7 separate regions of the Homo sapiens genome follow, and regions 1, 3, 4, 5, 6 and 7 are each linked to region 2. The links come from fine-mapping of genetic effects on gene expression. A gene starts in region 2. Each other region holds a variant in brackets. All regions are shown on one strand. Distances are between the middles of the regions.

Evidence for each region.
Region 1: its variant is fine-mapped to the expression of SGK1 in whole blood (TOPMed, PIP above 0.99).
Region 3: its variant is fine-mapped to the expression of SGK1 in tibial artery (GTEx, PIP above 0.99).
Region 4: its variant is fine-mapped to the expression of SGK1 in whole blood (TOPMed, PIP above 0.99).
Region 5: its variant is fine-mapped to the expression of SGK1 in whole blood (INTERVAL, PIP above 0.99).
Region 6: its variant is fine-mapped to the expression of SGK1 in whole blood (TOPMed, PIP above 0.99).
Region 7: its variant is fine-mapped to the expression of SGK1 in whole blood (TOPMed, PIP above 0.99).

The regions. Positions count from the first base shown.
Region 1 is chr6:134,719,084-134,723,151 of GRCh38, reverse strand. All of the region lies in intron 3 of LOC101928277 (a long non-coding RNA gene), which reads left to right. Among named protein-coding and RNA genes, the nearest start is that of LINC03002, 180 kb to the right of the region's middle. The variant C/T (reference allele first, on the strand shown) is at 2,149.
Region 2 is chr6:134,315,706-134,319,773 of GRCh38, reverse strand. It overlaps SGK1 (serum/glucocorticoid regulated kinase 1), which reads left to right and starts at 1,662. Exons shown (of 14, transcript NM_001143676.3): 1 at 1,662-2,382. The coding sequence starts at 2,314. RefSeq lists an enhancer at 1,835-2,114.
Region 3 is chr6:134,795,620-134,799,687 of GRCh38, reverse strand. All of the region lies in intron 3 of LOC101928277 (a long non-coding RNA gene), which reads left to right. Among named protein-coding and RNA genes, the nearest start is that of ALDH8A1, 150 kb to the left of the region's middle. The variant G/A (reference allele first, on the strand shown) is at 1,737.
Region 4 is chr6:134,240,307-134,244,374 of GRCh38, reverse strand. All of the region lies in intron 2 of SGK1 (serum/glucocorticoid regulated kinase 1), which reads left to right. Among named protein-coding and RNA genes, the nearest start is that of SGK1, 76 kb to the left of the region's middle. RefSeq lists enhancers at 3,374-3,423, 3,464-3,523. The variant C/T (reference allele first, on the strand shown) is at 2,166.
Region 5 is chr6:134,168,451-134,172,518 of GRCh38, reverse strand. It overlaps SGK1 (serum/glucocorticoid regulated kinase 1), which reads left to right. Exons shown (of 14, transcript NM_001143676.3): 10 at 203-326; 11 at 787-882; 12 at 1,341-1,496; 13 at 1,604-1,693; 14 at 2,084-3,263. The coding sequence ends at 2,251. Among named protein-coding and RNA genes, the nearest start is that of SLC2A12, 120 kb to the right of the region's middle. The variant A/G (reference allele first, on the strand shown) is at 2,058.
Region 6 is chr6:134,411,322-134,415,389 of GRCh38, reverse strand. No RefSeq gene overlaps it. Among named protein-coding and RNA genes, the nearest start is that of LINC01010, 24 kb to the left of the region's middle. The variant G/A (reference allele first, on the strand shown) is at 1,977.
Region 7 is chr6:134,344,210-134,348,277 of GRCh38, reverse strand. LOC105378009 (a long non-coding RNA gene) reads left to right here. Exons shown (of 2, transcript XR_943002.3): 1 at 1-82. Among named protein-coding and RNA genes, the nearest start is that of SGK1, 28 kb to the right of the region's middle. The variant A/C (reference allele first, on the strand shown) is at 2,200.

The DNA.
Region 1 (4,068 bases), 400 kb before region 2:
GATCACAAAGTCTGGATCAAACCCAGATGCTATGACCCTGTGTCTCATGACCCAGCATTTCTCCAGCTAAAGAATTTCAAAATGTGAAGGAGAATAGCTCCTGAATATAGATTTTTTTTTTAAAGGTAAGGCACTGTTCTATTTATTTAGTGCACTTTGCTGAAACTGTTTTCTATCAGTATTAGAAAAGCATACAGTATAACTCGAAGATTTTTTAAAATAACAAAAAGTTCAGCTTGTTGTATGGCTGTGTGCTAATTCCTGATGTAGTGGGACTCTTTTTTCTCCACAGGAACTGTATTCTGTGAAGCAAATCTTTCCATAATCTCTAATACTGCCCCACAAGTCCTGAGTGAATTACATACTTTCATTATAGCCCTCCCTCCTCCACATTCTCCCGACCCTGGAAAAATAGCCTACTTTTCTATGAGGGAAAGAAAAAGAGGCCGTTAAAGAGGCCGTTACTTTGTGTCTGAAAAGAGTGAAGGAATTACTGAGCTACTTACAAGCTCTACACATGTGGAATCAATATAATTTTCCATCAGATGGTTCAAAAATGTATTCAAATTATGTGGTTTTGCAATGCTAAACTTTGGAATTTAGTTGTTAATAGGAAAGTTTTTAGGATAGTTTGCCTACCGAGTGCCATTATTGAATTTGAATAGCAAATTGTTTATAATCATACACAAACAATCTTTATTTAGGTTTTACCCATGTTTCCTGAAGGGCAGGGCAAGTTCTGAGTATATTATTCCTCTCTGTCTACTGGGAAGGTCAGGATTACAGACAATTAGAAGAAAGTCAGGGCATGAACAGATCTCTCTATGTATTCCATTAGTCTCCTGTTTTGATATTTATCCATGAATTTGAAGTCACATTTACTTAGCTACCATCTGATTTCCATGCAAGGTTTTTCGTAAAGAATATGACAGTGCTTAAAAATATGTGAATTTTTAAATAAGACTTTTGAAGCAATAATATAAAGGTAGATCAATGATTAATGTGGAATTAGATATCTACAAGAACTCCTGAGATGCAGCACCTCAAAATATAGTTGAACTGGGTTAAAATATGTAAATTCCTTAAAGTCAATGAAATGTAAAGTTACATTTCAGTTATGTGCCAAGCAAGGTCCATATAACTGGCCTAGTATAAACTTTTCACATGTGTTTATAATAATGAGGCTGACAGTGGAAGAGATGAACGTGGAATTACTATTAGAATAACAATTTACATTTCTGTAAAATGCCCTCATATAGGTAATCTCTTGATTTTCATTAGTTAGGTATTATTATTCCCATTTTATAGATTAGAAAACTTAGGCATATAGAGCATAAAAGATACAGTGCATGGAAGATAGCATCATCTAATGGAAACCGGGTGAGAGGACGGACTTTGGGATCAGACAGATTAAAAATCCCAGTCCCACCCCTCAATGCCTATATGATCTATGGAAATATTATTTGGCCTTCTTAAGCTTCATTTTCATTATCTGTGAAATTGGGATAATTCTGTTGACTTAACAGAGTTGCTGTGAGGGTCAAAGGCAATAAAGGTATGTAAAAAGCTTAGTTTAGATTTTTCTTGAAGATATGGGGCTCGATGCTGGGAGACTCCAAACACAGTGCTTCATGAATATTTGGTTGAGATCTCTGTTTTGCCATTTGCAATGTCAGGACATGCATTTTTGGGCCCTCTTGCCGAAGCCATAGAGAGCCCCTGTTAAGACAGGAGCAAAGTGACCTCTGCCCCAGATAAAAATTATTACCTTCCTGATGTATTATTACCCTCACCTGGATTAGGCCATCGTTATTCCCAAATAGTAACAATCTGCAAATGCATTTGTACAATAAGAATTGCATGGTCCTGGTACATCTATTTTACACACATTCCTTTTAGGGATTTTGTGGACACATATGTTCACCAGCTTTAAGAAATTGCTCTATCCACATAAAGAAGGATCACCCACAGCATGTGTTTACTGGTCTCCTCAATGTGTGAAGTTAGGGCTATTTGTTTGTAACATGCTCATATTAACTCTCTTTAATGTCTGCAAGTGAGGAAGATGACTGATGTTTGTTCACGCCTAAAATAGAGAAGTGGAGGAGTGGGAAGGAAAATTATTTGTGCAACATTACACAGAAAGTC[C/T]GTGATGAAGCAGGAATGAGAGCCTGAGTTGCTGACCTCTTAATTCCTTTCCTGTCTCCCACAGACAATGATGCTTCTGCAACTCCTGGGCAGGCAATTGCACCTTCATTCTTTTGTACACTTACAAGTGTATTTTCCAGGGAACCCACTGCAAGGGCCTCCACCCACTTACATACAACTTATATTTAGCTCTGATGACAGGGGTTTGCTTGACCTGACCAAAATCAAAGGAGAAGTGAGCCTACTGGGGCCTAGACAGGGCAGGAAGAAGCTCAAAGAACTGGCTCTATAAGAACTACAGAAAAATCTCTGACCTTGAGGTCCCACATCTCTGACCTTGAGGTCCTCAGAGAGAAGCAGCTATAACCCTGATGATGACAGAGATGAATTAAAATAAAAATGCTTCCAAATATCTGTTGCCAGGAAGCAGATGACATGCTAAATTACTCTGCAGATTGACTACTTAATTCAGCGATTTCCTGAGTCAGGAGTTGCCAGAAGAGCCATTTTGTCCTTTCTGGCAAAAAAGCCGCTGGGATTGCTGTCTCCAGTCCTCTTTCCTCTGCTTCCTGCTGTAGGAAGGCCTGTTTCCGCAGAGAGATGCCTGATTAGACAGCACTGTTTTAGTAGGCAGAGGACTAGGTAACAAGTTAGGTCTTTCATTTGACATTGATTGTGGGCAGTGTGGAAGTCATGCACATCATAAAAATACAAGTCCTTTTAGAAAATGTAAACTAGTGAATGAAAAGCAAATTAGACAAAGCAAATGTCTGAAAAGTAATATTGCAACATTTTCATCTATTTGATTTCAAATGTTTTGAAATGCCTGGTTTATTTTTGCACAAAGAGTCCTGCTTCAGTCCCAGTGCAGTTTTTTGGAACTGAATTTTGAGTGATGAGATTAGTATTTGCCAGGCGAATATGATGCAGCTAAGCAGTCTGATGTCAGTGAGTGGTGACTTTCAGAAGGCATAGCAGTTGGCTAGGGCCAACTCAGTTGACCCTGAGCCAGAATGGGCATTTTATAGAAACTGGTGGATAAGCTGTATCTCAGCTCCTAACTACTTTGCTGTACTGCGGAGTAGTGCCTCCACCTTATCTCTAAATTGCTGAATAAGATGCATATAATCCAGCAAGGCTAAACAAATAAAAAGCTCAGAACATCCAGGCAAAAGGAAACAAGAGTAGGAGGCAAAATGGAACCACAAATGAATGGGTTCACAAAACATGGAGTGAAGATTTATTTCTTCTGGTACTTGTTTAGCATCAATGTTGTGTGACCTTGGGTTAGTGTGTGTGTGCCCTGACCACTCAGGCTGTAAGCATCTCAAGAGCAAGGCTTCTGGCATTGGCTTCTTTCAAGTTCGTGTCTTGTTCAGAGCTTTACTTGTAGCCTGTGCCGCTTATATGTTTGCTAGTATTGACTGGTGATGGTTGAGTTTCTTCTCTTCCACAGGGTTCTACCTTGGAACTCCCAATATTGCAGCATCAATAAACGTATCAGCAATTATTTCCGGAGCTGTTGTTTTGGATTACAGAGCATCTCAGGTTATTTGCATTTAAGCAAATTTGGAGTGATTTTGTTGAATAATTTCTATTTTTAGATTTTTCACTCCAACAGCTGGGTGTTGGCTAGAAAGTCACATGTTACTAAAAGTGTTTGTGTAGAAGAAAAACGTCTATTGGCCACGAGGTGTTGTAGAAGAAATTCCTTCCCTGGAGGAGAGAATGGCTAGTTGACTAGATGTTCCTTTTAAACTACTCCATCATATTTTACCCTTGGCAATGAATTTGCAATGGAAGCTCTAAAACCTATTCTTATATTTGGGATTTCTTTAATTCCAAAGAAAAGAATATAAATAAATACTTCATAGGTGGCTTTAAAGTTTCTGCTCTGCCCGGGCGCAGTGGCTCACGCCT
Region 2 (4,068 bases):
ACCAGTATGCATGCTAGGCCAATGTGGGATTAAGCAAAGCCCCAGCACCTCCTTCCTAGCAGAGTGCTTAAAGGTCCCCTCCTGTATATTACTCAAATTCAATAAATGTCTGTTAAAACACTTTTGGGGGAGTGGCAATGGGACGAAAAAGAAAGAACTTGAATGACCATCATTTTTTAAAATGAGGTCCATTGAGGTATAATTTACATGCAGCAAAAGTTTCCCTTTTCCTATATAAAATTTGATGAGTTCTGACAAATGCATAGTTATGTAACCACCACCATCATCATGATAGAGAACACTTCCATCGTCTCAAAATAATTCCCTTTGAACTACCATAATTTTAAATGAACTCTTTAGAAGAACCACAAAAACTTATCAATGTTGTAGATTACATAACATATACTTGCATCTTGGACAACTTAACATATCTCTCCAAAATGAATAGTTGTTTTCCCTTGGTTATCATGCCATCATTTAGTTGTATTGCATTTTCTTTTTGGAAACCTCAAGGCATTTAGCAAACAGGATTTCATGTTTATTCCCAAAAACTCTGGCCCAACTGTAGAGATTTATAGTCCAATTCAATGAAACCCATGCATTTCTTTCCCAGTTTAACCTGATGTTTCTCTTCTTACCAGAGACTTCCATGTAAATACTTTAACAATGTTAGGTGTGTTATATATAATGAGGTCATAATCAGTTTCAAATTAGCATTGCGCCTTTCACTTATTTATCAATTATATTCCCTTGTGATGATTATGAAAAGGCTCCACATCCTGAGGACACTTGTCAGAGTTAGATTTATTAATGGAATGAAATAGCAAATAATGAATGACTAAATAAATGAATGAGTGAATGAATGAATGAGTGGCTGCCTCCATTTTATGGATGAGGCAGTGTCCGAAAGGCACAGTGAGGTCAGGTGATGGCAGAAAGCCACACACCGATGTTGGTGGCTTTCTGCCAGGTCAGATGCCAAGTTTATTTTCTTTGCTTTCTTGCTTTACTATCAACTAATCTTTAAAATCATTCCCATAAAATATCAACATTAAAGAATAAAAATGGAAAAATAAGCCACATACAATTAAATGGCTTTTTTAAAAGGAGCTCAGTGTGCAAAGGATAACATGAGTAAGGATTTTTTGGGAAATTTTTCACCTAATAGGAAGAATGCTTTACTCTTTTATTTATCAAACCTTCCTCATCATTAAATGGATTCAGTAGTACTTTTTGGTAATAACTCGTGTGTGTGTGTATGTGTGTAATAAAGTACTTTGTATATGTTCATTGTGTTCTTTTTTTAATAAGCTGTTTTAATGAAAAAGACACAATTACCGTCACCATTGCCCACTATATAATGACAAGTAGGGGAGGGGAGGCTAAAAGAGCTTCTACATAGTGAGAGATCTTCCATTGTTATACCTACGCTTGCACTTTATTTCATTTTCTTCCACGTTTGGACAGGTCGAGATTAAATGTGATTACATTTCCGTTGAGAGGCTTTTATTCAGCAACAGGATTCAAAAGAATGTCAATGAGCATAAAATAAAAACGGTGTGCAATTTATATGAAACTCTGATTTAAATGGTCCTAACCAAAAAAAAAAAAAAAGAAAGAAAGAAAAGAAGCTATTTAAAGTAACCCTCCCAAGGGGAGTCAACTGCTCTTCAGTGTGCCCTGAGCCGGCTGTGCCTTCTCTCCATCCGCTGCTCAGATATTCATGAACCGTTGCTTCTTCCAGCCTCGCCTTCTCGCTCCCTCTGCCTTTCTGGCGCTGTTCTCCCTCCCTCCCTCTGGCTTCTGCTCTTTCTTACTCCTTCTCTCAGCTGCTTAACTACAGCTCCCACTGGAACTTGCACAATCAAAAACAACTCTCCTCTCTCAAGCCGCCTCCAGGAGCGCATCACCTGGAGAAGAGCGACTCGCTCCCCGCGCCGGCCGCGGAAGAGCAGCCAGGTAGCTGGGGGCGGGGAGGCGTACCCTTCTCCCGCTCGGTAAGAGCCACAGCATCTCCCCGGAGATTGGCCGTATCCCACCGTCCGGCCCCCAGGGTCCTGCAGCGGTGATGCATATGTTTCGGAGCAATGATGGAAGGAGAAAAGCCGCTGTCGGTGGCAACTGAAAGTGGGGAGAGGTTGCTGCAGTAGCTGGTGCTGCAGAATGCGCGAGTGAAGAACTGAGCCCCGCTAGATTCTCCATCCCGCTCAGTCTTCATTAACTGTCTGCAGGAGGTAAACCGGGGAAACAGATATGCACTAACCAGGCGGGTGCCAACCTGGATCTATAACTGTGAATTCCCCACGGTGGAAAATGGTAAACAAAGACATGAATGGATTCCCAGTCAAGAAATGCTCAGCCTTCCAATTTTTTAAGAAGCGGGTAAGGACAGGTTTTGCTTATTTCTTTTGTTTTCTGTGCTTCTCTTAAATGCTTTTGAATGTTTGCCTGAAGTAAGCCTGAGGTTTTGTTGCTAAACCCTTAATGTAAGCCGTGCTTCTGATGGCAGTGGTAAAGCTGAGAACTATACCTGACTTGATTAGAATTTGTTGGAGGAGGGGCAGGGGGCTATGAAGAGTTGCATTGGGAGGAGGGGGTTGGGCTGAGATGCCTTAAACGGGTTTGAGCTGGGAATGGGGATTTTTCTCTCTCAAGCCACAACAAAGATTACAAGGCAGTCGCAAAGAGAACTGGCTTGAGTACAATTATGGCTAGTAATTTAGTCAGGGGCTAATTTAGCAGCTTCCTCTCATCTTTGAAGGGTTCAACTTTTCTACACCTTTCATCCACTCAGTCTCAAGTGATGCATTATCATCTTCGTTCGTCAGAAGCAGCAGCTTCTGGTTTCCCAAATCCATTCAGCCAATAATTTGCTGTGTCTCTATCTGTGGTATAAATAGCAAAGGAGTAGAATGACCTTTTACAGAAATGATGGAATCCAGCATTTAAAATTGTCTATTTTAAGTTGCCTCAATTTTTGCTTTTGCTTAGAATAACTGCCTTTTTTTTTTTTTTTTTTTTTTTTTTTTTGGGAGAGAGCAGTGGGAGGTCTGTATTTGAGTGATAATTCAGGGTTATGTTGCTGTATGCATTTATTTCTTAAACTCCTTATTCTTCAACTCAAAGTATGAATAATGTTGCATTGGTTGTAGGTGAGAAAAAAGGATTTTTTTGCATGTATATTTCACAATAAACTCAGTTCACTGGGATGGCCACACTGGTGGTCTGTGTAAATCTGCAAATTTATACACAAGCGGGAGGTAAGAAATGAATGATTGTTAAAGGAATGACACTGACACTCTTAAGGACAGTGTTTCCTAAGCAACGTAAGAGAAGGAACATCCTCCAGTCCCCAGTTGCCCCATCCTATTTAATACCCTAGGGCAATTCCACCAAAATGGTTCTCTCCATTCATTCCTCCTTCCTTTCATTCAGGTCCTTTCTGTGCCACTCCTGAAACACAGCCCTTCAGTTAACTCATCCGCAGAACACAGTGAATTTCAGGGTGGGCTGGACTATCTCCCTGCACCAAATGGGCAAGCTGGGAAGGCAAGGCTAGAAATGCAGGCAACATGTCAGGCCCAGCTAGAGGGCCAGCGAAGGCTCCCAAGCACCCTTGACTGAGTTCTCATCAGTAAAGCAAAATCTTTCTCCAAGTCTGTGGGCCAAAGCATATGCATTCAAACCAAAATGAAACCAACCTGTCCTGGCCCCTGCTCTTGGAGTGGGAGTACCATGTGAAATCTCACTAGTGAGCTGCAAGCTAAGTGAAAGCAAGTCAGTGCAACTTCACAGAGCTCCACAAGGCTTCTTAGTTTTTCTCTGTAGCTAAAATATTTCTTTCCAAGGGAAGAGCCCTTTATGAAAATTAATTTTCTTTCTTTCTTTTTCTTTTTTTTAGAGACGGGGTCTTGCTATATTGCCCAGGGTGGTCTTGACCTTTTGGGCTCAAGTGGTCCTCCTGCCTCAGCCTCCCAAATTGCTGGGATTACAGATGTCCACCACCAGGCCCAGCCCTAATTTTCAATAATAAACAAATGTTTTGCTAATTTTAAAAATGCCATAGCC
Region 3 (4,068 bases), 480 kb before region 2:
TCTCTGTTTCCACCATTTGGATTAAGGGTGAGGTAGGCATCATGAAGCTTGTTATTGTATTCCCCAAGTTAAATTTTCATTTCTTCAGTCAACAAATATTTATTATGTGGGTAAGGGCCTGACACAGTACAAGGCACAGCGGTGTGCAAGCTGGACCCTGTGTTTACCCTGGACCCTGTGTTCACCCTTTTGTCACATATGTCCTGTTGGATGAGACAGGCATTGATTAAATAATCACACAAGTCTGTGATTACAAATGGGAGAATGAGCTATGAAGGGAGGTGCTATCCACTTATTTACTTCGCTGCAGAAACAGGTGCTGATGTTTCAGCAATGCCAGCCCTGAATGGAAAAGGCTGGGCTCTGAGGAGACCTACATCTAATGGTTACTCTTTTTGCTGCAAAGTTGGAAAGAGGAATGAGGATGAACTGAATTGCTGAAGACCTGATTGGACAGTAAGAATTTTATTACACTCAGGGCAATATTCTTTTGGCTAATAAAGCTGCTACTGGAATAAAGAAGTATTCCTCTTCTTGGGTCGCTGAGTGTTCAAGTTAAACTGACATTACTTTGGCTACAAATCTATCAGGTTGAGGCATTTTTAAGATCCATCCTTGCAGAAAAATTAGCTTTACAAAGGCTCCACAGAATTTCAGATGATATTAAACTACTTTCCATTCATTAAGTATAATATTTAATGCATTGAAATAAGCACTAGTGATAAAAATTTAATTAAGATAATTAGTGTCACAGCCAAAATAAAAATATATAATTAACACTGAAGTGACTATAAAAACATATTTTGACACTTCAGTGGGATTTTAAAAAATGTCTTCAATAAATTCTCATGAAATTAGATTTCCAAATTTATGGCAAAATGATACTTTATTTTTTGAGATGGAGTCTTCTTCTGTGTCCCAGGCTGGAGTGCAGTGGCATGATCTTGGCTCACTGCAACCTCTGCCTCCTGGGTTCATGCAATTCTCCTACCCTAGCCTCCCAAGTAGCTGGGATTATAGGTGCCTGCCACCACACCCAGCTAATTTTTGTAGTCTTAGTAGAGACAGGTTTCCCCATGTTGGCCAGGCTGGTCTCGAACTCCTGACCTCAAGTGATCCACTTGCCTCAGCCTCCCAAAGTGCTGGGATTACAGGTGTGAGCCACCACACCTGGCCCTGCAAAATGATACATTCTAAGTATATATAATTGATGAAATATTTTGCTTAAGTGCCAGAGTTTATACAGTAACTTTACTATAAATTCAAGTGGCCATCTGGAATTTTTCATACCTAAAACAAATACCAGAAAGTTAATTTGAAGGCTAAAATCTATTGCTTCCTTTATGATCATATTCTCATAGAATTTTAGAAATTTAAATTTGTTATGTCTATATTTATAATTAATTGTTACCCCATGTCAGTTTTCCTATTTGGACTGTTAAAACTTTATTTTCTCTTTCTCCTGATGTAAGACCCCCATGCCTGCTACATCTTCACTGTTTACCATCCCCTTTTGGGACTTCATGCACTCATCCGAATAACTTGATTTCAAAGGTCTTCAAAGTATTAACGCAGTAAAGGAATTTTGTAATTTATTCCAGTGACAGAGTCTTTACAGATATTTCTGTCTGTAAGGGGCATTAGTTTAGCACTCAAATGAGGACTTAAGTCATAGCCACACGTGTCAGACTGGGCTCATTGAGTAACGTCTCATGGTTCTGTTTTAATAACTTCTT[G/A]GCCTTAGTAGATTTACGCTGGCCAGGCTGACGTTTTATTTATAGCCCGAGACATTTACACTAAGCCAGAAGGTCTGGACATTCTCAGGAGGCCATCAGTCACTCTAGTGACTAGGACAAGTTTGACAATGTCTGTCATCTTTCACGTTATCCAATCTCTAGTCTGTATATAAAGAAAGGAATGACTTGCTTTGTAAAAGATGAAAGGCGAAGGTGGTTTCTAATCATATAAGTAAGAACAGGTTATAAGGATTTGGCCTTAAAATGGGATCTGGTTTCTTTAGTCACAGACCATGGCTATGAATTTTCTTTCTGTTGCAGTTTGACAAAGTGTTAGATAAGCTGTCAACAGTAGGCCTTTTCTCCTCAAAGAGTTTGTACATGCTTACCAGCAAGTCCTGGGTTCTAGAATTCTGGGTCCATCTACTACTCCCTTCCCAAGCCAGTTCCCAGCTTTGGAAATACACATACCTATACTCATCACCAAATATGAAATTGATTCAGAGGAATGAATTGAATTGACAGAAATATAGATATATTGTTTCTGTTTTATTTTATTTTATTTTATTTTTTTTTGAGGCAGGGTCTGTCTCTGTTGCCCAGGTTGGAGTGCATTGGCACAGTCTCAGCTCACTGCAACCTCTGCCTCCCAAGTGATCCTCCTGCCTCAGTCTCCTGAGTAGCTGGGACTATAGGCAGGTGCCACCATGCCCAGCTAAGTTTTGTATTTTTTTTGGGGTAGAGATGGGGTTTTACCATGTTGCCCAGACTGGTCTTGAACTCCTGGGCTCAAGCAATCAGCCTGCCTCAGCCTCCCAAAGTATTAGGATTACAGGTGTGAGCCACCGCCTCCAGTTATTTATTTCTATTTTTTATTTGTAGTAGTGCTTTTGCCTATTATTGAAAGAAGCCACAAGAAATAGCCAATTAAGAGCCCTCCCCAACTAATATTAGGGGGGAGTCATCCATCATAATCCTCAGCATCAGATGGATAAATACTGAAAATATTTTGCTTTGTTTGGGAAACCAGGGCTTTTCTTCTGATGAACAATGTGGGGAAACAATGACATTGACAATATTTCCATTTTTACTTTGGGTCACAGGGAACTCAGACAATTTGCAAACCAACCTTTGTTATCTCTCTGGGCCTTTTGGCTTATGGAGTCCTATTTTTTCTGCCTCTGATTCTAACAATATAGTCTGATTTATATCTTTCTTGGTGTTCATTTTTATTGTACTCTTTTGTGTATATATTACTTTTAATGTCACCTCAGAACCTTTGTGATTTAAGAAAGATTATCAATCAATAAGTAAGTAAGAAAAGGAGTTTCCAATCATTCTCCTAAGTCCCATTTTCTGACACCATTTCTTTTTTTTTTAATAATTGTATATATTTATGGGGTACATGTGCAATTTTGTTACATGCATAGATTGTGTAGTGGTCAAGTCAGGGCTTTAAGATATTAGGCCGGGCACAGTGGTTCACGCCTATAATTCCAGCACTTTGGGAGGCCGAGGTGGGTGGATCACGAGGTCAGGAGTTCGAGACCAGCCTGGCCAACATAGTGAAACCCCTTCTCTACTAAAAATACAAAAATTAGCCAGGCGTGGTGGCACACACCCGTAGTCCCAGGAAGCTGAGGCAGGAGAATCACTTGAACCCGGGAGGCAGAGGTTGCAGTGAGCCGAGATTGTGCCACTGCACTCCCGCTTGGGTGACAGAGAGAGACTTCATCTAAAAAAAAAAAAAAAAAAAATCCTTCCCCTGAATAATGTACATTGTACCCATTAAGTAATTTCTCATCACCCAACCTCTTCCCACCCCCTCCCATTCCCTCTCACTTTGATGCCTCCATTGTCTATCAATCTACTGTCTTTATCCACATGTGTACATTTTTTAGACCTACTTATGAGTGAGAACATGTAGTATTTGACTTTCTAGTGACACCATTTCTTACAAATGGTCAGGTCCTATGTGTTTTTGGATCAGTATGTCAGGAGGAGGAGGCTGGGAGGAAAAAGTTGGATTTCCTTGAAGTTGGCTTCTCTTGACACCTCCCACTGTTTAAAGAGTCAGCTCATTGTCTCAGAGCCAAACTGCTGAGATTCTCAGAGCCATTCCTCATTCTCTTGGAAGTAAAGGGATTCATGTTTGAAAGAGGCAATTTATCTCTAAAGGGGAAGCAAAAAGACCTAACTTGTGTAGTATAAAATCTTGGGAAGTTTTAGGATTATTTCACATTCCTATTTCTACCGGCAACCAAATTCAAAAAGTATGTTTTGTTGAAAATAAGGTCAGACTTATTTTCATTGTTTTGTATCTTTGGTAGAG
Region 4 (4,068 bases), 75 kb after region 2:
ATCAATGTTAGACTGGATAAAGAAAATGTGGCACATATACATCATGGAATACTATGCAGCCATAAAAAAAGGAGTTCTTATCCTTTGCAGGGACATGGATGAAGCTAGAAATGATCATTCTCAGCAAACTAACACAGGAACAGAAAACCAAACACTGCATGTTCTCACTCATAAATGGTAGTTGAACAATGAGAACATATGGGTACAGGGAGAGGAACATCACACACCAGGGCCTGTCAGGGGGTGGGGTGGGAGGGATGGCATTAGGAGAAATACCTAATGTAGATGATGGGTTGATGGGTGCAGCAAATCACCATGGCATGTGTATGCCTGTGTAACAAACCTGCATGTTCTGCACATGTATCCCAGGACTTGAAGTATAATTTTAAAAATAAATAAAATAAATAAATGAATATTATTAAAATAAATAAATAAAACTATTGTTTAGAGTTTTCTGAACTTTGGTTTTATTATTTTTCAACTTTGTCACATCAAGACTTAATTCTCCATCTATATAGATAAAAATGCAATGGAGCTTAAAAACCACAAACAACAATTATCCATAGATTGATGAGCAACATCTAGAGCTTCCTGGGAATAAGTCAGGCAGTATAATTCATTAGTGCAGAGTTAATGAATCATGCAGGTTGGAAAATTGGTAACAATTTAATTTCATCAAGGATAATACTTTAAAACTGCACGTTATGGCCGGGCGCGGTGGCTCGTGCCTGTAATCCCAGCACTTTCGGAGGCCAAGGCAAGCAGATCACCTGAGGCCAGGAGTTCGAGACCAGCCTGACCAACATGGAGAAACCCCGTCTCTACTGAAAATACAAACTTAGCCGAGCATGTTGCCACATGCCTGTAATCCCAGCTACTTAGGAGGCTGAGGCAGGGGAATCGCTTGAACCCAGGAGGCGGAGGTTGCAGTGAACCGAGATCGTGCCATTGCACTCCAGCCTGGGCAACAAGAGGGAAACTCCATCTAAAACAAATAATAATAAATAAATAGATAAATAAATAAAAAATAAATACAACTGGAATTTACAATGAAAATGTTTCCAAAGGACATAATGAATTGTCCCCATTATACTTTCACCATTTATGTTTAATATACTTCCATCTCAGACAATTTAGAAATAAAACTGAACCATCAGTATATTAAAGATGGAATATATTTTTTATTTTCTTATTAATTCATTATCATTGATTCTATATTTTCTATAACCAAAGGCATAAGCTAAATAGGTAAAAGTATTGACAAAATTTTAAAGTATTTTTATTTGGAAGACATGAGAATCATTCTAAGATGTGTTTTGGGTGTTTTGTTTGTTTTTTAACCATTAGTTGAAATATCTATTTTTATTTTCTTATTAATTCATTATCATTGATTCTATATTTTCTATAACCAAAGGCATAAGCTAAATAGGTAAAAGTATTGACAACATTTTAAAGTATTTTTATTTGGAAGACATGAGAATCATTCTAAGATGTGTTTTGGGTGTTTTGTTTGTTTTTTAACCATTAGTTGAAATATCTATTCAGATTGTCAGTACAATCTAGTTCACACTCAAGGACAGATTACTGTTTTGAAAATTTAAAAAATTCTAGGATGGGCACAGTGGCTCACGCCTGTAATCCCAACACTTGGGGAAGCCAAGGAGGGAGGATTGTTTGAGGCCAGGAGTTCGAGACCAGCCTGGGCAACATAGCAAGACCCCATTTCTAAAAAAAAAAAAAATTAAATTTAAATTAAAAAAATTTAAAATTCTAAATGTCTGAAGGACTATAAAGCAACTGTGGGTAAATTTCCCATGTTCAAAACAGCTCTGCTACTGGCCCAAGTTGCCCATTTCCCTCACTCTTATTCCTAATTCTTTTTTTTTTTTGAGACGGAGTCTCACTCTGTTGCCCAAGCTGGAGTGCAATGGCGCGATCTCAGCTCGCTGCAACCTCCGCCTCCCAGGTTCAAGCGATTCTCCTTCCTGAACCTCCCGAGTAGCTGGGATTACAGGCACGTGCCACCACACTTGGCTAATTTTTTGTTTTTTAGTAGAGACAGGGTTTTGCCACGTTGGCCAGGCTGGTCTCGAACTCCTGACCTCAGGTGATCTGCCCACCTTGGCCTCCCAAAGTGCTGGGATTACAGGCGTGAGCCACCGCGC[C/T]CAGCCTTATTCCTAATTTCAAAATTCCTAGTTGCTCCCTTTCTTCCCTCTGCGGTTCATGAGCACCAGCACGTTGGTCATTGCTTCCACTTGCTCAATCCCTTCATGCAGTTTTAACCTCACTTGTCTCTGGCCTATCTTGTTTCTCACTTAGCCACATTAATCCCTTCTCTCCCTTTCCTCTGGGACTCCTGACAGTAAACACCATTCGGTCATTAAGCTTTCCTCAAAATCCTCCCTCTGCCCTCCCATCTTGTGACACAGGATTGTAACTTCATATAATAAAACAAGGCTGGGCACGGTGGCTCATGCCTGTAATCCCAGCACTTTGGGAGGCCGAGGTGGGCGGATCACGAGGTCAGGAGATCGAGACCATCCTGGCTAACGCGGTGAAACGCCGTCTCTACTAAAAATACAAAAAATTAGCCGGGTGTGGTGGCGGGCGCCTGTAGTCCCAGCTACTCGGGAGGCTGAGGCAGGAGAATGGCCTGAACCCGGGAGGCGGAGCTTGCAGCGAGCCGAGATTGTCCCACTGCACTCCAGCCTGGGTGACAGAGCGAGACTCCATCTCAAAAAATAAATAAATAAATAAACAAGTTTGTTGGCTACATGTGATTTCAATCTAGGAAGACAGACTTCGTAGAGCCTGCATTTGGGTGTGCACTCTTACAAATTCCGAGGAGGGAGAGGCTCAGCATTCCCCAGATAGATCAGACCAAAAGCATCTTTGGGCTGGGCAGGGTGGTTCACACCAGCATTTTGGGAGGCCGAGGTGGCAGGATCACCTGAGGCCTAGAGTTTGAGACCAGCCTGGAAAACAAAGCGAGACTCCATCTCTAAAAAGAAAAAAACATCTTCAGAGCCTGGGTCCATTGACCCACACCTGCAATCCCAGCACTTTGGGAGGCCAAGGCAGCAGATCACTTGAGCTCAGGAGTTCAAGAGAAGCCTGGGCAACATGGTGAAACCCTATCTCTACAGAAAATATAAAAAATAGCCGGATGTGGTAGTGGATGCCTGTAGTCCCAGCTACTCAGGAGGCTTAGGTGGTCGAATTGCTTGAGCCAGGGAGTCTGAGACTGCAGTGAGCCGAGATCATGCCACTGCACTCCAGTCTGAGTGACAGAACTGGACCCTGTCTCAAAAAAAAAAAAAAAAAAAGAAAAAAAGAAAAGAAACATCTTCAGGAAAGTGCTGCCTTAATTGAGATTTGATTTTCTACTAAAGATGAAACATTTTCTCTGATGCCCTCAAGCAGAAAGGGCTTCTTCTCCAGTCTTGTCTGGCTCAGAGCCAAGAGTTCGGCGGGCACTAACTTGACTTTCAAGAACTTCGCCAACTTTGCTCAACCACACCCACCCTTCCTCTGCCCTCACTGTCATCATCTACTAACCTCGAAGACACTTCCTTTAATCTTGGTGCCTGATGTAATCGTTTTTCTCTCTACTTGTTCACAAACAACCATTCTGGGGAATTTCAATATTTGTTCTCATTATTCAGCTAACAAGAATAACAGTACTAGGAATAATGACAACTAATATATCATTTTTGAATGTCTACTGTGCACCAATAAGTATCTTCAGCACTTGACATGCATTATCTCATTTAATTTCCACAACTACTGTATGTAAGAGATAGCATTATTTCCAATTTGCTGATGAGGAAAATACATTATTTAACAAGTCCAGGAATATACAGGATATTCAGCGGCAGAGCCAGGATTCCGAACAATATTTAACTGGCCAAAATGCCTTTCCCTACATTATATTTTTAGACTCTTTCACTATACATCTCTAGCTCCATTCCTCCATAAATCTACTGACATGGTTATTTATTGGATCTTACAATTATCCTAAATTCCTCCTCCTGTAGGTGTTTAAACTCTCCAGTTCCCTCTTTTTTT
Region 5 (4,068 bases), 150 kb after region 2:
CTTAAGTGCCAAGGGGGAACCAGCCAAGTAGGATTGTGCCTAATCCAGAATAGATGAGCAGAACAAGGGCTCCCTTTTTTCTTCACTACACAACTACAGTGAACCTAAAATGCCTCTAATACCTTTAGCAATTATCTTTAAGAGGATATCTTATGAAGTGAAATTAACTTGTGCAACTACTTTTCTATTCACTTTTTTACAGAGACTTAAAACCAGAGAATATTTTGCTAGATTCACAGGGACACATTGTCCTTACTGACTTCGGACTCTGCAAGGAGAACATTGAACACAACAGCACAACATCCACCTTCTGTGGCACGCCGGAGGTAGGCGCTGTCTTGGTTTGGTGCCTGGTTTACCCCCGCCTTCCAAGAGAGAGATGTACAATCATGCACTTAACTACCAAAAAGAGTAAACTCCTCTCAGAGACTTCTTAATACAGTTCAGTGCAAATAAAATACATTTGCTGTTTGATGTAGCATGAGAAATCCCAAGTCCTTCTGTTCCTTTACTGAAAAGTAGCTGTTTGTAAGTAAGATCTGCATCATAAAAACTTTCTAAATCCCTAAGTAAGAGATATCAAGTGCCCAGCAGTTTCCTAAATGTCAGTACACATAGGTAGCCAGTCACCCTCAAAAAGTCCAGCAGTTTTATCAGGAAGGAATCTAAAGATATCTATCTTCCAAGCTGGCTCTGGGTCTCTCAGCTTTTTCAAACTAAATGTGTGGTCGTGGGATTGCTTGCTTTCGCAGGTTCTAAACGCTGTTTCCCTGGTCTGTTTTTCAGTATCTCGCACCTGAGGTGCTTCATAAGCAGCCTTATGACAGGACTGTGGACTGGTGGTGCCTGGGAGCTGTCTTGTATGAGATGCTGTATGGCCTGGTGAGTGGCACATTGGGAACCATGGAACACTGCCTGCTCCCTACAATATTGCCTTCACACAGCCCATGCTTGGCCATGGTGTCTTGCCCTTACCAGTACGCTTATCAAAAGCAGCTAAGAGGCATATTGGTTATTTTATAGTTCATAAGAATAATCACTTACCTGGTTCTTTTGTGCATTTCACATTTTACTAGATAGGACCACATTGAACCTGTGTGGTGGTGAAAAACTACCACTTATTAACATCTACCCCCTCACCCTCCACACACACACACACAAACACACACACGGGTTGCAAAGTAGACACTTAAATAGCAAGGGAAAAGAAAGCATTGAGGTGGGGAGAGTTTCTCAAATCGAGCCTAATATTTATTGCCGTTTATATCTTTTTCTCTACTGGTAATGTGTGCCATATGAAACTTCCAATTAAGTCTAAAGTAATTTTCCCCTTCTTTCAGCCGCCTTTTTATAGCCGAAACACAGCTGAAATGTACGACAACATTCTGAACAAGCCTCTCCAGCTGAAACCAAATATTACAAATTCCGCAAGACACCTCCTGGAGGGCCTCCTGCAGAAGGACAGGACAAAGCGGCTCGGGGCCAAGGATGACTTCGTGAGTGATGTTTTCCTGTCCTCCTGGGCCGGCCGGGACGTGCACTAGACCTCCCTGCCCTTATTGAATGCACCTGTCTAAATTAATCTTGGGTTTCTTATCAACAGATGGAGATTAAGAGTCATGTCTTCTTCTCCTTAATTAACTGGGATGATCTCATTAATAAGAAGATTACTCCCCCTTTTAACCCAAATGTGGTGAGTATCTGTCTCTCTTCTAAGTATAGAGAAGCCCAAAGGGCATTTATTTTAATTCAGAATTGTCTGGGGGAGGGTTGGAAGGAATACATTGGCAGATGTTTTCTCCATAAACCTGTTATTTTACCTACATAAAAAGCACATTTTTGTGTCCCAACAAGGCTCCCATAATTTTTAGACACATTTATCAATTCGAAGCACCAAAAGGCAACAAGTGAACATTATTCTTATGTTTAACTGTGTGTAGCCTTTTGAGATTTTGTGCTTGAAGTGGGTGATTATGGAAGTTGATATAAGACTTAAACTTGGTATTTAAAGCCTGGTCAAGATTTCCCTGTCCTGTGTCTAGTGTGAGTTCTTGACA[A/G]GAGTGTTTTTCCCTTCCCGTCACAGAGTGGGCCCAACGACCTACGGCACTTTGACCCCGAGTTTACCGAAGAGCCTGTCCCCAACTCCATTGGCAAGTCCCCTGACAGCGTCCTCGTCACAGCCAGCGTCAAGGAAGCTGCCGAGGCTTTCCTAGGCTTTTCCTATGCGCCTCCCACGGACTCTTTCCTCTGAACCCTGTTAGGGCTTGGTTTTAAAGGATTTTATGTGTGTTTCCGAATGTTTTAGTTAGCCTTTTGGTGGAGCCGCCAGCTGACAGGACATCTTACAAGAGAATTTGCACATCTCTGGAAGCTTAGCAATCTTATTGCACACTGTTCGCTGGAAGCTTTTTGAAGAGCACATTCTCCTCAGTGAGCTCATGAGGTTTTCATTTTTATTCTTCCTTCCAACGTGGTGCTATCTCTGAAACGAGCGTTAGAGTGCCGCCTTAGACGGAGGCAGGAGTTTCGTTAGAAAGCGGACGCTGTTCTAAAAAAGGTCTCCTGCAGATCTGTCTGGGCTGTGATGACGAATATTATGAAATGTGCCTTTTCTGAAGAGATTGTGTTAGCTCCAAAGCTTTTCCTATCGCAGTGTTTCAGTTCTTTATTTTCCCTTGTGGATATGCTGTGTGAACCGTCGTGTGAGTGTGGTATGCCTGATCACAGATGGATTTTGTTATAAGCATCAATGTGACACTTGCAGGACACTACAACGTGGGACATTGTTTGTTTCTTCCATATTTGGAAGATAAATTTATGTGTAGACTTTTTTGTAAGATACGGTTAATAACTAAAATTTATTGAAATGGTCTTGCAATGACTCGTATTCAGATGCTTAAAGAAAGCATTGCTGCTACAAATATTTCTATTTTTAGAAAGGGTTTTTATGGACCAATGCCCCAGTTGTCAGTCAGAGCCGTTGGTGTTTTTCATTGTTTAAAATGTCACCTGTAAAATGGGCATTATTTATGTTTTTTTTTTTGCATTCCTGATAATTGTATGTATTGTATAAAGAACGTCTGTACATTGGGTTATAACACTAGTATATTTAAACTTACAGGCTTATTTGTAATGTAAACCACCATTTTAATGTACTGTAATTAACATGGTTATAATACGTACAATCCTTCCCTCATCCCATCACACAACTTTTTTTGTGTGTGATAAACTGATTTTGGTTTGCAATAAAACCTTGAAAAATATTTACATATATTGTGTCATGTGTTATTTTGTATATTTTGGTTAAGGGGGTAATCATGGGTTAGTTTAAAATTGAAAACCATGAAAATCCTGCTGTAATTTCCTGCTTAGTGGTTTGCTCCCAACAGCAGTGGTTTCTGACTCCAGGGGAGTATAGGATGGTCTTAAAGCCAACCTACGTTCCAGGCCTTTTTAGCAGCATTTTATGGTGTCTGTCATTCATAAATCCATCCAAGGAAATCCTTTGCAATTTACTCATCTTGCAAGGATTGCTATGAAGTAATGCTTCCTGTATTTATTGCCTGTCCTGTGAAGTTGGACTATTTGTCCTGACATTTGGCTTGTCTTCAGTTACAGGTAATTCTTTCCAGAAATATTTGAAAGCCTACTCTGGGCTCTATTGCGAGTGCTCAGGATATCGTAGTGGACAAAGCAGACAACTTCGCCCTTCCAGAGCCTGATGAAGAAGGCCGACCTAAAGCAGTTAGTTGAGATGGAAATTGAGAAATAGTCTGTGAAGTTTAGGAGAATGCCACACAAGAGGGTGAGAATTTTTTTTTTTTTTTTTTTTTTTTTTGAGACACGGTCTTACTCTGTCGCCCAGGCTGGAGTGCAGTGGTGTGATCTTGGTTCACTGCAGCCTCCGCCTCCTGGGTTCATGTGATCCCCCCATCTCAGCCTCCTGAGTAGCTGGGACTACAGGCATGCACCACCATGCCTGGCTAATTTTTGTATTTTAGTAGAGATGGGATTTCACCATGTGGGCCAGGCTGGTCTCGAATCCCTGGCCTCAAGTGATCTGTCTGC
Region 6 (4,068 bases), 96 kb before region 2:
CAAAATCTTTCTCCTTCAACTCTACATCCGTAGAGAAAAATAAAAGATGTATAATGCCTTTCACCCAAGAATGCTGAAATCATTAATAAGCATCAAGTAAATTATTCTGAGATGTAATTGATGACAAAGATCGAAATCTTCGAACCAAAGGTTTCACAAGTACTATTATTTACAATGAAAAATGTGAGACCTGCATACCAGCCCTGTACACGATAGCATTTGGTAAATAACGACTGACTGTTGATGATATTCACAGAAAGTCAGTGACTGACTAGCAAAGAAGGGAGTGACATGTACCAATGTACCAGAAGAAGGAAGCAAGGCTTAATCTACGTCAGGCCTTTTTGCTATTTCTCGTAGACCCCAGGGAATACATATGTCCTTCCTCTGGTCTGTGCAGTGATGCTGCACAATTAGAGGAAACGCTGAGCATCGGAAGCCAGGCTTTCTCCCAACAAACCCAGAACCCCCAACAACACACCGCCTAGTCCCAGCTTCTCAGAAGCACATGCTATGAAGCTCTCTATGCTGCTGAACATTCCCAGGATGACAGAAACACAGAACCTGGGGAGGGTCCCTGGTTCTCTGGGGAGGTGTCTCTTCTCTTCAGTCCCCTTCTTCTAATGGGGTTAGGATAAATGAAGGGGACTGGTGAATTGCTCTACAGCCTATTTGCCATGTTAACAAAGTAGGCTACCTAGCCCCTCAGAGCTTGTAAGCTGAGAATAGTGTTTTCCTGATTTGGCTGATATAAAGGTCTGCATAACAGTAACAAGTTGTGTGGATCCCTCCAGATTCACACTTTACCCTTCTTTCCCCATTCCCTTCCCTTCCCTTCCCTTCCCTTCCTCTTTCTTTCTTTCTTTCCTTCCTTCCTTCCTTACTTCTTTTTAGTCTTTCTTTTTTAATTGAGATAAGGTTTCACTATGTTGCCCAGGCTGGTCTCACACTCCTGAGCTCAAGTGATCCTCCCACCTTGACCTCCCAAAGTGCTGAGATTGCAGGTGTGAGCCACCATGTCTGCTCCCCCCACCCCCCCCTTTTTTTTTTAGAAACAAGGTCTCACTCTGTCTCCCATTCAGAGCAAGTACAATGGCACAATGCTAGCTCACTGAGCCTCAAATTCCTGGGCTCAATCAATTATCCTGCCTCAGCCTTCCAAGTAGCTGAGACTACAAATGTGTACCACCACACTAGTTAATTTTCAAATTATTTTTTGGAGAGGTGGAGTCTCACTGTGTTGCCTAGGCTGGTCTCACACTCCTGGCTTCAAGTGATCCTCCCACTTTGGCTTCCCAAAGTACTGGGATTACAGGTGTGAGCCACCTCACTTGGTTGTTTTACCCTTTTTGATAAGTGCTATGTCTTGGGAGGTTGACCCATATGAATGGCTTCAACAAGTTCTCTTGCCACCTGACTTTCTATGGGATATGCCCATGGAGGCACCAGAGGATGATCAGAGTTGAGAGAAGAGGGAGATTCAGAAATTTACTCTCCAAGCTCCTTCCTTGCCAGGTTAAATGTATCTCCCAAAAGTTCATGTGTTGGAAATTTAATTATCAATGTAACAATATTAAAAGGTGGAACTTTTAATAGTTGATTGGGTCATGAGGGCAGAGCCCTTATGAATGGATTAATGCTGTTAATGCAGGAATTAGCTAGTTCTACTGAGACCAGATTATTACAAAAACAAGCTTGACTCAGTCTTGTGATCTCTTTTGCACATGCTCACTTGCCCTTTTGCTTTTGTGGCATGTTACAATGTGGTACTAAAGCCCTTGCCAGAAGCTGCTGCCATGCCCTTGGATTTCCCAGCCTCCAGAACCATGAGCCAAATAAATGTCTTTTCTTTATGAACTACTCAGTCTCAAGTATTCTGTTATAGCAACAGAAAACAAAGACAGAAAACAGGTACCAAGAAGTGAAGTTGTTGCTAGAATAAATATCTGAAAATGTGGAAGTGGCTATGGGATTGG[G/A]TAATGGGTAGATGCTGAAAGAATCTGGAGAAACAGGCAGTGGGTCAGCTGCTTCATGCACAGAAGCCTACAAAAGAAGCCTTCTTCTTCTTCTTTTTTTTTTTTTTTTGAGACCGAGTTTTGCTCTTGTTGCCCAGGCTGGATGCAATGGCACAATCTTGGCTTACCACAACCTCTGCCTTCTGGGTTCAACCAATTCTCCTGCCTCAGCCTCCCAAGTAGCTGGGATTACAGGCATGTGCCACCATGCTTGGCTAATTTTGTATTTTTAGTAGAGACTGGGTTTCTCCACATTGATCAGGCTTGTCTTGAACTCCTGACCTCAGGTGATCCACCCGCCTTGGCCTCCCAAAGTGTTGGGATTACAGACGTGAGCCACTGTGCCCAGCCCACAGGCAGCCTTCTTCTAAACAGCTACCCTCACTCCTGTCAGCACTAGGGTCCCACTCCTCCTCGCCCTGGGGTGCTATGCCATCCTTTGTGGTTTCCTTAAACCCTACCCACACTTTGTAAACCGTTTCTTTGTTGAATTCTCATCAAATTACCAAGAGGAAATATGGAATATCTTTTCTACCAGGACTTTGAATGATGCATATGTGAAACAGCTGGCTATATACTAGAGGCTCAGGAAATGGCAATGATGTTACTGACTCTGTAATTTAGGTTAGCTTCATAATGTATTTTAAGCAGCCCTGTTTCTTCTTTGCAAAAGGAAATATCCTGCAAAAAATATAGTTCTGCATCTGTATCTACAAAGTAGTTTGAAAGTGGAATTCATGAATGAATTCAGTCAAATAGCCACTATACTGAAGAGGGTAGATTGTTCATATATAGCCAACTTTCATCAGGCTAGATATGACCTCAAAAACTGAAATCAGATTTGGAAAAATCAGAGGCCTTGGGACCATGAATCAGTCTTGCTTCCTAGAGGATGGGTACAGGCTTACCTCCTGGAAAAAAGAACATTTATTCTAACAATCTGTTAGCAGGCCTGCAGTGGTTCTCAAAGTGCAGGTCCCAGCATCATCTGGGAACACATTAGAAACGGAAACTCTCTAGCCCCATCCCCAAGCCTGCAGAATCAGAAGCTCATGGGTTGCAGCCCAGTAATATGTGTTTTAACAGACCCTCCAGAGGACTCTGATGCACACTAAAATTTCAGAACTACTTCACCTGAGGGGTTTCTGGAAGTAGACAAAAGCCAACTTTCAGGAGTCTAGGTAAGCATTTGGCATCAGATGACCTAACAAGCAGTAAAGAATTCAAGAGCTGGTCAATTCGTAAACAAAGAACTTTGTTTGCTTTGGGGAAACTCTGTCATTAGGGAATAGGAACAGGACCTCTGTGTATGGTTCAGAGAAGGACTCTAGTACCTGCAGGGTGAGTGGAGAGCAGGTACAATCAAAGCAACACCCCAATATTACAGGGACTGAAGGCTAAGTGGATTCGGAAGCAAGGCATTATGCACTGGAAATAAATGAAGAACCCTTATGGGGACTGGGGCCCTCATCAGTCTGGGTGTCTGGAATAGCTACAAGCCCAGTTAACAGAATCAGAACTCAGGATTAGTGCTGAAGAAGCATTTTGAGTAGTTCAATGCTTGGGATGTGAGTGTTTGACCACAGCTTTTAAAGTCCCTGGTGCCTCAAATTAGGACTAGTCCTAAGGGCCACAATGTAGCTGTTTCTTTTGGTGACAACCACACATTTTGGCTGTGGGAAGGTGGTGGGTACAAAGCCTCTAGATTTTCAGGCAGGGCGTGACCACCACCTCTTCACACTGGATACTTGCTGGCCAGCTGGTTTCCTGATTCAGCTCATTATTTTTCAAATTACCTGATGTGTGTAGACCTCTGGTTTTCAGTCTTCAGTATATAGCAATGTTATGATTTAAATGTATCCCCCGAAAGTTTATGTGCTGGAAACTTGTCAATGTAACAATATTAAGAGGTGGAGCCTTTAAGAGTTGATTGGGTCATGAGGGCAGAGCCCTTATGAAAGGATTAATGCCATTAATGAAAGAATTAGTTAGTTCTACTGAGACCAGATTGTTACAAAAGCAAGCTTGGCTCACTCTTGTGATCTCTTTTGCA
Region 7 (4,068 bases), 29 kb before region 2:
ACGTTGCCTTCTTTCTTTTGCAAAATAACCACAGGATACTTCTCAGAGAGATGCTACGGAGATGCTTCAGCCTTGAACACCAGTGAGTCACGGTTTGTACAACTCAAGGGTGCTGCCAGCCCGCCTCTGCTCTCCCTCACGGTTTTTGTTTTCTTGGTATGATAATTAGTTGTTGGCTCCATGAATGTGTCTCCCAAGGAAGAAAAATGTGGGCACCTGTTATTTCTGGAATGAGTGTTCTATGCGTTCTATTGAGGTGAGCTATTCACTCAGAGTCCAAGAGGCGGCTGGCATATGGTCACCTAACACAGAGCTCCACTGCGCTCACACTACGTGTTCACCAGACCAAGAGGAGGGAATGTGATTTTCACCTCCCACCTCCTGTCTTCTGTTGAGTTAAACAGAGTACAGGCTCTCTGGGTGGGTTGGGGGAGACTGGGGGAAGGACTTTTAGAGTTAGCAAAACCTTTAAAAAAAATACCAACGCCTGGGCCTTACTCCAGAGCCATGAGGCCAGCTGGGGCACTGGTGTTCTTTCTAAGTTCCCTAAGTACTTTCAATGAACAGCCAAGGTTGAGAAGCACTGAACTTGTCCATCAAGGTCCTTCCAAATGAAACAGAGCCCGGAGAGGCTGACAAATTGCCCCAGGGCTCCATGGCTTGTTAGCTAGTGTGCGTTTATCTGTGTGTCTGTCTTCTCACAGACTATGAAATCCTTGAGCACCTGAACCATGATGTTGATATTGAAATTCACAGGGCCTCCAGCTATAAATGTTTGATGAGGGCAAAAAGCTAGGAAGGAAAGGAGAACCAACATCTCTCTTTCCCTTGCTCCGCAAAATCTCCCCAAGGACAATTATTGCTAACATAAACTTACTGTGAACTTTTTTAACCCCAAAACTTGTCATTAAATATCAGATTCCCAAAACATATGACCCATTCATTTCTGGAAAAATTGCATGAGTCAGAAAGGCCCCCAAATCCCAAGCCCAAAGACTTTACCCTAATTAATCCAGCTGTTTTAAGCTAAGCGCTTGACCTTGCTCACTACCTCATGCCTCACTAAGCTCTCATTTTGAGGAGTCTCATTTATTCCCTAGTTACACTTGACACTTTCAAATTAATAGGCTGCTCAAAATGGCGTGTCTTCCTTTGGTATTAAGACTCCGAAGTGAAGGAAAGAATTATGGGAAGTGCATGCTGTGACGAAGGAGACAGAGGCCTAGAACCTGAGGTATTGCCGGGGCCTCGGCACAGAGTTCTAGAATGTTATGTGACTTTTCTGGTTCTATCCACCATCAAGTAAGCATCTTTCACCTGCTAGTCAGGTGGAATTCAAGTCAAATCCAGCCAATGTAGTGTGGTGTAGGGGCTCAGAATCAGAGCCATAGAACTGTTTGCAGCAGATAACTCAGTGCCCGGCCCGTGTCCCCTCGCCCTGGCCACTCAGTGCATGCAGACCACCATTCCAAATGCCCAACTCTCCACATCTGCATTCCTTCACCTGAGAGCTGCCTCTGGACCCAGTGTCCCCACCCAGGCAGCAGACTGGAAGTGCCAGACAATGAATATCCCCACCCCACCCCTACCGTGGCCTTCAAACCAGAACTAAACAGGAACTGGGTTTCCTGTGCCCTTTCCTTGCTGGTGTTTCGTAAGCTAATCCCCCAAATAATTGAATCCTTGTGTAATGATCTGCTCTGGGGAAACCCAAGGAAGACACAGTGGTCCGTCAATATACAGACATTTGATTTTTGATATTTTGTTTATTTTTGAGACAGAGTCTCACTCTATTGCCCCAAGCTGGAATGCAGTGGTGCAATTACAGCTCACTGCAGCCTTAACCTCCCAGCCTCAAGTGATCCTCCCACCTCAGCCTCCTGAGCAGCTGGGACTACACCTGTGTGCCACTACACCTGGCTAATGTTTTTATTTTTTGTAGACACAGGACCTCCCTAGGTTGCAAGGGCTGTTCTCAAACTCCTGGCTTCAAGCCATCCTCCTGCCTCAGCCTCTCAAAGTGTTGGGATTACAGACATTACAGGGATGAGCCACAATGCCCAGCCTGATAGTTGATTTTAGAAAAGCCAGTTAATCTCTCTGACAGTGGCTGTCCTAGAGTATAAAATAAGGAAAGAATTTTGAAGTCCCACGTCTTCATAACAGCACGCAAAGGGCTGCATCACGTGGCTGCCAATG[A/C]CCTCCCTCACTGACCCGCCTTTCTCCCTGGCCTCGCCTCCAAGTGTGCCTCTCCCCTACACTCCTCTCCAGCCACAGGAGTTCCTTTGAATTCTTGGAACATGCCCCATTCCCACTTGCCTTTGGGACTCACTCACGCTGTCCGTCTGCCTGGAACACGCTTCCTCCTTCTGCTTGCTTGGCTCAGTCTTACATATCCTCCAGCTCTCAGCTTAAATATCAGTTCCTGTAGGGAAGCCTTTTCTGTCACCCAGTCTAGGATTGCACTCATTATATGCTCCCAAATATAGTGCTCCCTTCATGGTGCTTGGTATGCCTAGTGCAATTCTCGTTTACTTTCCTGAGTCCATCTCATTCTCCAAGAATTGTCACCACTGGTCTTTATACTCCTGGAAGGCATGAACCCAATTTATTGTCTTGCTCTCTGCTGCATCTCTGATAGCCAGCCCAATGCCTTGCCATAATTGTTGAAACAAAATGCATGTTTATCTATTGAAAAAAAAATTTTTTTTTGAGATGGAGTTTCACTCTTGTTGCCCAGGCCAGAGTGCAATGGTGCCATCTCGGCTCACCACAACCTCCGCTTCCCAGGTTCAAGGGATTCTCCTGCCTCAGCCCCCTGAGTAGCTGGGATTACAGGCATGTGCCACCACACCCAGCTAATTTTGTATTTTTAGTAGAGACGGGATTTCACCATGTTGGTCAGGCTGGTCTTGAACTCCCAACCTCAGGTGATCCTCCTGCCTCGGCCTCCCAAAGTGCTGAGATTACAGGCGTGAGCCACCTCGCCCAGCCTATTGAAAATTTGAGTTGGAGAATAAAAGGATTTTGGAATAAAAATTAAAACAAAGCTTCCCATCATAGGATCCGCCTTATGTAGCTTGTACCTGTGGCAAAATACGGAGTTGTCTTCTATCAGTTCTTCTGCTTGAAGCCCAGGGAAAAGAGTGTATGTAAAAGATGTGCTTCCCTGTGGCTGAGAGCAGCTTTATCTTTTTATCCTAGTCTGGGCTATCATTTTTATTTTTATTTTTATTTTTATTATATTAGAGATGGAGTTTCACTACGTTAATGTTGTCCAGGTTGGCCTCGAACCCCTGGCTCAAGTAATCCTCCTGCCTCAGCCTCCTGAGTAGCTGGGACTACAGGGATGTGCCACCACACCCGGCTTATCATTTCTAACATGAAAATTTAAAAGTTAAACTTTAAATTTAACTGCGTTAAAGTAATCTAACCCAGTAACATAAAAATGTGAAGTTGGGCTGGGCACAGTGGCTTATGCCTGCAATCCCAGCACTTTGGAAGGCTGAGGCGAGCAGATAGCTTGAGCCTGGCAGTTCAAGACCAGCCTGAGCAACATGGCAAAACCCTGTCTCTACCAAAAAAAAAAAAAAAAAAAATACAAAAATTAGCCTGGTGTGGTGATGCACACCTGTGGTCCTAACTACTCCGGAGGCCAAAGTGGGAGTATCACTTGAGCACTGGAGACAGAGGTTGTAGTGAGCCAGATTGCACCACTGCACTCCAGCCTGGGTGACAGAATGAGACCTTGTCTCAAAAATTGAAAAAAGAAATGTGGAGCTGGAATTTGGAGAAGAAAGGTTAGTAGTTGGCCAAGCACAGTGGCTAATGCCTGTAATCCCAGCACTTTAGGAAGCTGAGGCAGGAGGATCACCTGAGGCCAAGAGTTTGAGACAAGCCTGGGCAACACAGCGAGACCCTACAAAAAATTTGAAAAATTAGCCAGGTGTGTTGGTGTGCACCTGTAGTCCTAGTTGCTCAGGAGCCCAGCAGGTCAAGACTGCAGTGGGCCATAATTTCACCACTACACTCCAGCCTGAGTGACAGTGCCCAAGACCCCATCCCTCA